2 linked regions of the Homo sapiens genome follow. The protein of the gene in region 2 binds, or shares a complex with, the protein of the main gene of each other region. Each region holds a gene or a part of one and is shown on either strand. Other genes may lie near its edges. The genes, in order: MCM5 and GINS1.

Evidence for each region.
Region 1: GINS1 (region 2) and MCM5 share a complex: the UniProt entries of both Homo sapiens proteins name them as parts of the CMG helicase complex.

What each region holds. Positions count from the first base shown.
Region 1 is NC_000022.11:35,396,255-35,403,407, forward strand, and holds the start of MCM5 (DNA replication licensing factor MCM5), read left to right. Parts: upstream 1-3,885; 5' UTR 3,886-3,954; intron 3,955-4,176; 5' UTR 4,177-4,184; coding exon 4,185-4,351; intron 4,352-6,952; coding exon 6,953-7,079; intron 7,080-7,153. UniProt on the Homo sapiens protein: Acts as a component of the MCM2-7 complex (MCM complex) which is the replicative helicase essential for 'once per cell cycle' DNA replication initiation and elongation in eukaryotic cells.
Region 2 is NC_000020.11:25,445,410-25,449,093, reverse strand, and holds the end of GINS1 (DNA replication complex GINS protein PSF1), read right to left. Parts: intron 3,172-3,684; coding exon 3,103-3,171; 3' UTR 531-3,102; downstream 1-530. UniProt on the Homo sapiens protein: Required for correct functioning of the GINS complex, a complex that plays an essential role in the initiation of DNA replication, and progression of DNA replication forks.

The sequences.
Region 1 (7,153 bases), on a different chromosome or scaffold from region 2:
TAGGCACCCACCACCATGCCCGGCTAATTTTTTGTATTTTTAGTGGAGACGGAGGTCACAGGTTTCACCGTGTTAGCCAGGATGGTCTCGATCTCCTGACCTCGTGATCCGCCCGCCTTGGACTCCCAAAGTGCTGGGATTACAGGCGCGAGCCACCGCACCCAGCCTAGAATCAGTATTTTTGAAAAGTACCTTAGGAGAGTCCAACGCGCACCCAGGTCCAGGAGCACGTATGGTCACGTATGCAAAGCATAGGCATTCAAATAGCAGCTGGAGCTGGGCACGGTGGCTCACGACTATAATCCCAACACTTTTGGGAGGCTGAGACAGGCGGATTTCTTGAGGCCAGGAGTTTGAGACCAGCCCGGCCAACACAGTGAAAACCTGCCTCTACTAAAACCACAAAATTAGCTGGAAGTGGTGGCGCATGCCTGTAATCCCAGCTACTCCGGGGGCTGAGGCAGGAGAATCACTTGAATCCGGGAGGCTGAGGTTGCAGTGAGCCGAGATCGCACCAATGCACTCCAGCCTTAGCAACAGAGCAAGACTCTGTCTCAAAAAAACAAAACAAAAACCCAATAGCAGCTGGGACTCTCCTGCCCTGGGCCCAGTTTCCTCATTTGTGAAAGGGGAATAGATATTCATTGTACTGACAAAGAAAGGAAGGAAGAGGGGAGGGGAGAGAGAGAAACTATCTTGAATTTTACTAATAGGAGAATGGCTGAATAATTTTTTCCTATCAATTGTCGAACAAAGCCAGACACTAGTTAAAGTGGTAAGGACGACCGGGCACGGTGGCTCATGCCTGTAATCCCAGCACTTTGGGAGGCCGAGGAGGGCAGATCATGAGGTCAGGAGTTTGAGACTGGCCTGACCAACATGGTGAAACTCTGTCTCTACTAAAAATACAAAAATTAACCGGGCATGGTGGCGCGTGCCTGTAATCCCAGCTACCAGGAGGCTGAGGCAGGAGAACTGCTTGAACTTGGGAAACGGAGGTTGCAGTGAGCTGAAATTATGCCACTGCACTCCAGCCTGGGTGATAAAGCGAGAATCCGTCTCAAAAAAAAAAAGTGGTAAGGACAGATTTTAATCAGTAATGATTATTGCAACAGGGAAGAGAGTTCAGTATGAACTGAACTCAGCTTTAATTTGTATAGAGGTATTTTAAAGGGAGGTTGACCAGCCTGGGCAATATGGTAAAACCCCATCTCTACAAATGAATAAATAAATTCGCCGGGCATGGTGGTGAGGTTGAGGTGGGAGGATTGCACGAGCCTGGGAGGTCAAGGCTGCAGTGAGCTGTGATTGCACCACCGCACTCTAGCATTGGCAACAGAGACCCTGTCTCAAAAAAATAAATAAAAAAAATAAAGGAAGATTGAGGGAGGAAGGGGTGGGCAAGTGATTAGTAGAGTCAGGGAAGTGAAATATTACAAAAGGTTAAGTCAGTGTAAATGCAGTGAGGCTAGCTGTGTCTGCCAGTTGGCAATGATCAAAGTTAGAATTTTTGCCTCCCACAGAGCCTGGGAGACAGAGGTCACATCCTCGGTTGTTGCCTGGAATAAACGGTAAACATTTACCAGCAGCCTTGAGTTTTCTCAGGCAGGCACCTTAGCGGGGGCTGGCTAGAGTCATTTTAGAGATGTTAGCAGCTGTTAGAAACTGTTAGTGTTTGTTTAAGTCTTTTTTTCTTTTCTTTTTTTTTTTTTTTGAGATTAAGTTTCACTCTTGTCGCCCAGACTGGAGTGTAGTGGCACGATCTCGGCTCACTGCAACCTCCGCCTCCCAGGTTCAAGCGATTCTCCTGCCTCAGGCTTCCAAGTAGCTGGGATTACAAGCGCCTGCCACCACGCCCGGCTAAGTTTTGTATTTTTAGTAGACACAGGGTTTCACCATGTTGGCCAGGCTGGTCTTGAACTCCCGCCTCAGCCTCCCAAAATGCTGGGATTACAGGTGTGAGCCACGGCGCCTGGACTGTCTTTTTTTTCTTTTTAGAGATGAGTCTCGCTCTGTCGCTCAGGCTGAAGTGCAGTGGTGCAATCAAAACTCACTGCAGTCTCAAACTCCTGGGCTCAGGCCATCCTCCCACCTTGGCCTCTTGAGTAGCTAGGACAACAGGTGTGCTCCACCATGCCCAGCTAATTAAAAAAAAATTTCAAGCCGGGCGCAGTGGCTCATGCCTGTAATCCCAGCATCTTGGAAGGCTCAGGCGGGTGGATCACCTGAGGTCAGGAGTTCAAGGCTGGCCAACATGGTGAAACCCTGTCTCTACTAAAAATACAAAAAATTAGCCAGGCGTGGTGGCACACACCTGTAATTCCAGCTACTTGGGAAGCTGAGGCAGGAGAATTGCTTGAACCCAGGAGGTGGAAGTTGCAGTGAGCCGAGATCGTGACACTGCACTCCAGCCTGGGCAACAGAGTGAGACTCTGTCTCAAAACAAAAAAAATTATAAAAAAATTTCTAGAGAAGCGGGATCTTGCTATGTTGCCCAGGCTGGCCTCAACTCCTGGACTCAAGGGATCCTCTCATCTTGGTCTCCTGAAGTGCTAGGATTACAGGCATGAGCCACAGTGCCTATAGATCAAGGTTGAGGCTTAGAAGTGAAGGGAGCCCAGAGGAACCTGGCTAGAGTTTGGTCAAGGAGAGTCTTTGTCACCATACTACAGAAAATTAAGCAGCTGTTAAACAGAATGAGGCCGGTCTGGGCATGGTGGCTCACGCCTGTAATTCCAGCACTTTGGGAGGCCGAAGCGAGTGGATCACTTGAGGCCAGAAGTTCGAGACCAGTGTGGGCAACATGGTGAAACCCTGTCTCCACTAAAAATACAAAAATTAGCTGAGCATGGTGGCGCCTGCCTGTAGTCCCAGCTAGTTGGGAGGCTGAGGCAGGAGAATCGCTTGAACCGGGGAGGCAGAAGTTGCAGTGAGCCGAGATTGAGCCACTGCACTCCATCCTGGGGGACAGAGTGAGACTCCCTCTCAACAAATAAATAAACAAATAAAAGCAGTGTGTTAGGGTGCGAGAACCCGGGTCGGGGACGCGGGTGAGCCGCGCGGTAATCGCCCTGTCCTGCCACCAGCTGGAGGACAGGGGCTCCTCAGAGCCTCAGGCCCAGAGAACGGGCCCCACGACCGGGAAGCGAATACTCCACAGGGCACAGTCTCCCAATGCAAAATGGGCACCTGGACCCAATCATTTCTGAACTTCTAGTTTTTTCTCCCTATGGCTATGAAAAGGGTCATTTTTTTTCATAGGACTTTAAAAGAAGGCTTAAGAAAAGCACGCAGGCCTGGCCGGGTAGCTCACGCCAGTAATCCCAGTGCTTTGGGACGTCAAGGCAGGCGGGTCGCTTGAGAGTAGAGTTTCGAGACCTGGGCAAGATGGTGAGACTCCGTCTTTATGAAATATTTTAAGAAAATCACGTACACCTGTGGTCCCCGCTACAAGGGAGGCTGAGGCGGAAGGATTGCTTGAGCCCAAGAGGTTGAGGCTACAGTAAGCCGTGATCCAGCCACTGCACTCCATCCCCGGCAACACAACGAGACCATGCGTCAGGAAAAAAAAAAAAAAACCAAGAAAATAAAAAAGAAACCACCTAAAGGCGTCCTCCGCGCGCCCGCCCCTCCGCCATCTTTGCGTCCGCCCCGTCCTGCGCCGCCACTTCCTTCCCAGCCAGAAGTTTCGCGCCAAATTGTTCCGCACACAAAATGGAGCCCGGAAGGAGGCGAGGTCATGCACTTTGCAGCCAATCATCTTCGGCAGACAGTCCGGGCGGCGGGGCTGGAGGGCTCAGAACGGTCCAATCGCTGGCCGCGAGGCTCCGGCGAACCAATGGGAGCGCAGCGGCTGCGGCGTCCGAACACCGCCTCTTGTTTTTCCCGCGAAACTCGGCGGCTGAGCGTGGAGGTTCTTGTCTCCCCTGGTTTGTGAAGTGCGGAAAACCAGAGGTGAGGCTAGTGGGAGTGGGACTGGGACTGGGAGCCAGCAGGCATCTGGATTTCCGGGTGTAGTTGGAGTGGGACAGGAGTTTCTCGGGAACTGGGGTTGGAGTCCGGGAGCGCGGCCGGGGGTCCCCCTGCTCCGGACTCAGGGCAGGGACCCAGGCGTCGGAGGGGAGGAGGTGCCAGGCGCTGCCCCCAGCCTGTTCTGGCCGTTTGTTCCCACCCCAGGCGCAGTCATGTCGGGATTCGACGATCCTGGCATTTTCTACAGCGACAGCTTCGGGGGCGACGCCCAGGCCGACGAGGGGCAGGCCCGCAAATCGCAGCTGCAGAGGCGCTTCAAGGAGTTCCTGCGGCAGTACCGAGTGGGCACCGACCGCACGGGCTTCACCTTCAAATACAGGTGCGGCTCCTGCGGGGCCGGGGGCTCGAGTTCCAGTGTGGCCGCTCACACGCCTCTACCAGCCTGCTAGAGTCCTGGACAGTCAGGGCACAGATGGGCCCAGACGGGGGAAAGAGCCGGTCCTGGGTCACAGGGCTCATCCCGGCAGCCTCACGCCTTGGTATAAGGCTTTGTGTATTTTGTTTTACTTTATTTTATTTTATTTTATTATTAACGTATTTGTTTATTATTTTGAGACGGAGTCTCGCTCTGTCGCCAGGCTGGAGTGCAGTGGCACGATCTCGGCTCACTGCAACCTCCGCTTCCCGGGTTCAAGCGATTCTTGTGCCTCAGCCTCCCGAGTAGGTGGGACTACCCCCGCCATCACCACGCCCGGATAATTTTTTGTAATTTTAGTAGAGATGGGGTTTCGCCATGTTCGCCAGGCTGCTCTCGAACTCCTGACCTCAAGTGATCCACCCGCCTCAGTCTCCCAAAGTGCTGGGATTACAGGCGTGAGCCACCGTGCCCGGCCTGCTTTGTGTATTTTATCTGTACCTGGAGTTAACTTCTGGGTGAGTCACCTGTTGAGTGGGCCACCAGCAACCAGCTAGCGCCACTTGGACCGTTTAGTTCTTTATCCAGATCTTGTTCCTGTTCATCTGCTTCCTATCATCCTTCCATGTCATGTCTGAGACCTTACAAACTCAAGTTCCCTGTAGGTGTAAAAGGTGAAGATGGCAGTTAGGATTCACTTCACTTCGCTCATTCATTTATTTATACCAGTCTTGCACCTTCATTGATTGAGCACCTGCTGCCTGCCAGATACTGTTCTGGGTGCTGGGCTGCAGCACTGAAGCTGGACCTGGCTCCTGCTTCTAGGTGATTGTACGACCTGTGACATCATGAGAATTCTCATAGGCCCGGCCTCTATCCCTGAAATGTTAAAATGCAGAGAACATGAGGTTGCAGGTTCAGCACTGGCCCATTATTAGCTGAGTGACTTCCAGGTGTCAGTGTCTCTGGGCCTCACCAGGCCAGAAATGGGTAAAGCCATTCCTGCTTTCACTTACTCATGCAGCAGCTGATATTGCCCACCTGTGTGCCAGGCACTGCGCTACAAAGATGAAAAGACGTGCTTCTTGTCCTAGAGAAGCTCCTAAGTCAGAGGAGTGAGTCGTGAAGACCAACAGATAACTTCCACGGTGGTCATTTCCTCCACAGAGGAAGGTGAAAGGACTTAGGGAAGTTTTCCGGGGGGCTGAAGTTTGAGGGGACCTTTGAGCTAAGGTCAGAGTTGCAGGTGTAGAAAGCTTTCTGTCTAGGTAGGAGCAATTGCTTGTGTAGAGGTGTGGGGTGTCCTCACAGCAAGTGGCTTTCAGTAGCAGTCTGGCCATTTTACTGGCTCCTGGACATAAGGGAGACGGGGCTCAGGCCTGTGATACTGCGAGGCTGGGGAACAGCCTGTGCGTTGGTCAGTGGTCCCCAAATATGTTCTTGCCACAGCAGTCACATGGGATGCTCTGCTAAGCATCTGGGCTGGACGCAGTGGCTCATGCTTGTAATTCCGACGCTTTGGGAGGCTGATGCCAATGGATCATTTGACCCCAGGAGTTCAAGACCTGGCTGGGCAACATAGTGAAACCCAGGCTCTATTTAAAAAAAAACAGTCTGACTAGAGGTTGATAAGGCAGATGTGTTTTCTGCTGCCTTGGTGCCTCCAGTTTTTTTGTTGTTTTGTTTTTTGTTTTTTTTTTTTTGAGATGGAGTCTCGCTCTGTCACCCAGGTTTGAGTACAGTGGCGTGATCTTGGCTCACTGCAACTGCTGCCTGCCGGGTTCAAGTGATTCTCCTGCCTCAGTCCCCCAAGTAGCTAGGATTACAGGCATCCGCCACCACACCCGGCTAGGTTTTTTTTTTTGTATTTTTAGTAGAGATGGGGTTTCTCCATGTTGGTGAGGCTGGTACCTTTTTGGTTTTTTTTTTTGAGACAGAGTCTCAGTCTGTCGCCCAGGCTGGAGTGCCCTGGCGAGATCTCTGGTCACTGCAGCCTCCACCTCTGGGGTTCAGGCATTCTCATGCCTCAGTAGCTGGGACTACAGGCGTATGCTACCATGCCCGGCTAATCTTCGTATTTTTAGTAGAGACTGGGTGTTGCCATGTGGCCCAGGCTGGTGTTGAACTCCTGGCCTCAAGTAATCCACCCTCCTCAGCTTCCTAAAGTGTTGGGATTACAGGCATGAGCCACCTCACTGGGCCCCAAGTTTGAGCTGTGTGCATTGTTCTTTTCCAAGAGAAGTTAAAGGCTCTGCGGAGTCCTTCAGTGACAGAACTGGTTTGTTGTTTTGTGCACGCTGGCCTGGGTGTTGAAACATCCTTTGACTGTCTTGTGGACCCCTTCCATGGAGCTTTCTTTAGGGCATGCCTGTGCCAGCAGTGAGTAGCCTCTGCAGGGTTAAATAATGGAATGATCTGGAATTAGATGTGTGTTTGGGAAGAGGAATGGTGAGGTCATGGTGGCTGTGGTGTGGGCAGATTCAGGGGTGCAGGCACACCTCAGCCAGTGTTGGTTTCCTCTTCTTTGCACCCTTCCTGCCCCACCCTGCTATGTGCCCACTCCAGGGATGAACTCAAGCGGCATTACAACCTGGGGGAGTACTGGATTGAGGTGGAGATGGAGGATCTGGCCAGCTTTGATGAGGACCTGGCCGACTACTTGTACAAGCAGCCAGCCGAGCACCTGCAGCTGGTGAGTGGGACCCCATCCCTGAGCTTCCCAGGGCTGCTCTGCCCCAGTTACTAATAGCCTGTGCCCTTCCCTTT
Region 2 (3,684 bases):
AAGACATACTGGAGAGTGGGTAATTTATAAAGGAAAGAGATTTAATTGACAGTTCCACATGGCTGGGGAGGCCTCACAATCACAGCATAAGGCAAATGGATAGGGACCAAAGTCACGTCTTACATGGTGGCAGGCAAAAGAGCATGTCCAGGGGAACTCCCATTTATAAAACCATCAGATCTCGTGAGACTTATTGACTAACACCAGAAAAGTATGGGGAAAACTACCCCCTTGATTCAATTATTTCACCTGGCCCTGCCCTTGACACATGGGAATTATTACAGTTCAAGTTGAGATTTGGGTAGGGACACAGCCAAACCATATCACTAGGAATAGGAAGGAACTTCCTACCCCAATAAAGGGCATCTACAAACAACTTAAGAGCTAACAAACATCATAATAGTGAAAGACTGTTTTCCTTCTTAGATCAGGAACAAGATAGGGGTGTCTTTGACCACATATATTTAGTACTCTACTGGAAGTTCTAACCAATGCCATCAGGCAAGAAAAAGAAATAAAAGGCATTCAGATTAGAAAGGAAGGAGTAAAACTCTTTATTCATAGAACACATGACTGTTGATGTAATTTACAAAAACACCATGAGAACTCACAGTTTAGCAAGGCTGAAGGATACAAGTTCAACATCAATTGTATTTCTATTTACTAGCAACAAGTGGTTAGAATTTGAAATTTTAAAATACCATTTAGCATCAAAACTATGAAATGCTGACATGGTAGACCTGTACACTGAAAACTACAAAAGATTATTAAGAGAAATAGAAGACAAAACATTAATACCTAGGAAGACAGACCTTGTTTATAGGCCAGAAGACTCAATATTATTAAGATGTCAATTCTCCCAACAGTTTTATATAAATTCAATGCAATCTCAATCAAGGTGCCCAACAGGGGTTTTTGTTGTTGTTGTTGTAGAAATTGACAAATTGATCCTAATTTCTTTTTGAGATAGAGTCTCACTTTGTCACCCAGGCTGGAGTACAGTGGTGTGATCTCAGCTCACTGCAGTCTTGACCTCTGGGGTTCAAGTGATCCTCCCACCTCAGCCTGCCGTGTAACTGTGACTACAGGCATGCACCACCACACCTGGCTAATTTTTTCTATTTTTTGTAGAGACGGAGTTTTGCCATAGGCCCGGGCTGGTCTGGAACTCCTGAGCTCAAGTGATCCACCCATCTAGGCCTCCCAAAGTTCTAGGATTACAGGCATAAGCCACCACACCCTGCCTGTTCCCAAATTTCACATCAAAAGCAAAGGACTTAACATAGCCAAAACAAATCTCAAAAAGAAATGTGGTACACTGGGCCAGCACCAAGGCTCACGCCTGTAATCCCAGCACATGGGGAGGACGAGGCAAGTGTATTGCTTTAGCTCAGGAGTTCAACACAGCCTGGCCAACACGGTGAAACCCCATCTCTACAAAAAATACAAACAACAGCAAAAATATGACACATTAATACTATCTGTTTCAAGAATTATTAGAAAATTACATACACTACATACAAATATGGTATTGGCATTCAGGAGAGAAAAACAGGTCAATGGAACAAAACAGAGTCCTGAAATAAACCCACATATACATTGACAACTACTTTTTAACAAAAATGCAAAGGTGATAGAGCAAAGGGCAGTCCTTTCAAAAAATGGTAGTGAAACAGCTGGATATCTATATTCCCAAGAAAAAGTGAAGGTGGATTGACACCTTGCACCATATAAAAAATTCATTCAAAATGGATCATAGGCTGGCCGCGGTGGCCCACACTTGTAATCCCAAAACTTTGGGAGGCCAAGGTGGGTCACTTGAGGTCAGGAGTTTGAAACCAGCCTGGCCAACATGGTAAAACTCTGTCTCTACTAAAAATACAAAAATTAGCCAGGCGTGGCGGCCTGTGCCTGTAATCCCAGCTACTTGGGAGGCTGAGACAAGAGAATCACTTGAACCCAGGGGATAGAGATTGCAGTGAGCCAAGATCACGCCACTGCACCCCAGCCTGGGTGACAGAACAAGACTCCATCTCAAAACAAAGAAACAAACGAAAAAACAAAACAAAACAAAAAAAAAAACGGGTCATAGACCAAAGTATAAAGCTTAAAATTATAACACTTCTAGAAGTAAAAAGGAAAAAAAATTGTGATCTTGGGATGGGAAAAGATTTCTCGGATGCAACACCCAAAGCATAAAAGAACAAACGAATAAACTGGATTTCATCAAAATTTAAAATGTCAGCTGTTTAAAACATACCATTAAAAGACAATCAACTCTTCATGTGACTTTTCAGTCAATCTGAATCTCAGGGAAAACTGTACAAAGTTCCTTCTCTAGCCCCAATTTCACTGTCCCCTTCCAAAGTGGTGATACTGGTGATCACCCCATAGCCACAAGCCACACCAGCCACCATGGTGGAAATGTGCAAAATCCATGTGTGTCCTTCCTTCCCAAATAGCCAGATGATAAATTAGTATGTCATTAAACATTATATATACTGAAAATTTCTACAGACCATCATCTTCACTTGCATGTGATTTGAAAATGTGTATCTCAGAAATTCAGCTCTCTAGCTTGTACAATACACATGACCAGAAAACAAGACACACAGGATCTACCTTCTTCCTGTCCAGCCAAGTGACTGCTTATTTAAGAGATTCAAATGTAACCATGTTTACTTTCATTTAAAAAACACACTGTAACAACTGTAGGAATGCTGTGATTACAGATACAGCTTATTAGAAAAAGGAGTAGGGGCCGGGTGCAGTGGCTCACGCCTGTGATCTCAACACTTTGAGAAGCTAAGGTGGGAGGACTGCTTGAGGCCAGGAGTTTGAGACCAGCTTGGGCAACATAGTGAGACAGTCTCTACAAAACAAAACCAAAACCAAAAAAGAGTAGGAAGAATAGTGTACAACATTAAAAAAAGAAAGTCCTTAATAGTTAGCAAATTATACTTCTTAGCCAAGTATTCTTAGTTATCTTAAACAATGTCTATAGCTTCTAAAATCAAAGAGGGAGGTGAAGGGAGTGGTGGAGAGAGTGAGTACAGAGGAGTCCATGAGTTGAGTGAAGCCTGGAAGTGCCTCGGCGCATGGTCATGACAGGATGTGCTCCAGGACTCCTTGTCTGATCAGCTGCTCACATTTCCATCGAGGTAAAAAGTGCTGAGGGGACAAGAAGGGATGGAGAAAGAGTAAAATAAATGATTGGGAAAGAATTTGAAATTATTTCTTGTATCATTAAAAAGTAGCACTGATTAGTTTTCAAACTCCAACAAGTAAGTAGTTGAAAGTTAAACTTAAGGGGCTGGGTACGGTGGCTCATGCCTGAAATCCCAGCACTTTAGGACACCAAGGTAGGCGGATCACCTGAGGTCGGGGGTTCAAGACCAGCCTAACCAACATGGAGAAACCGCGTCTCTACTAAAAAATACAAAGTTGGCCCAGGGGCAGTGGATCACGCCTATAATCCCAGCACTTTGGGAGGCCGAGGCGGGTGGATCACGAGGTCAGGAGATCAAGACCATCCTGGCTAACACGGTGAAACCCCGTCTCTACTAAAAATGCAAAAAAATTAGCCAGGCATGGTGGCGGGCACCTGTAGTCCCAGCTACTCAGGAGGCTGAGGCAGGAGAATGGCGTGAACCCGGGAGGCAGAGCTTGCAGTGAGCCGAGACC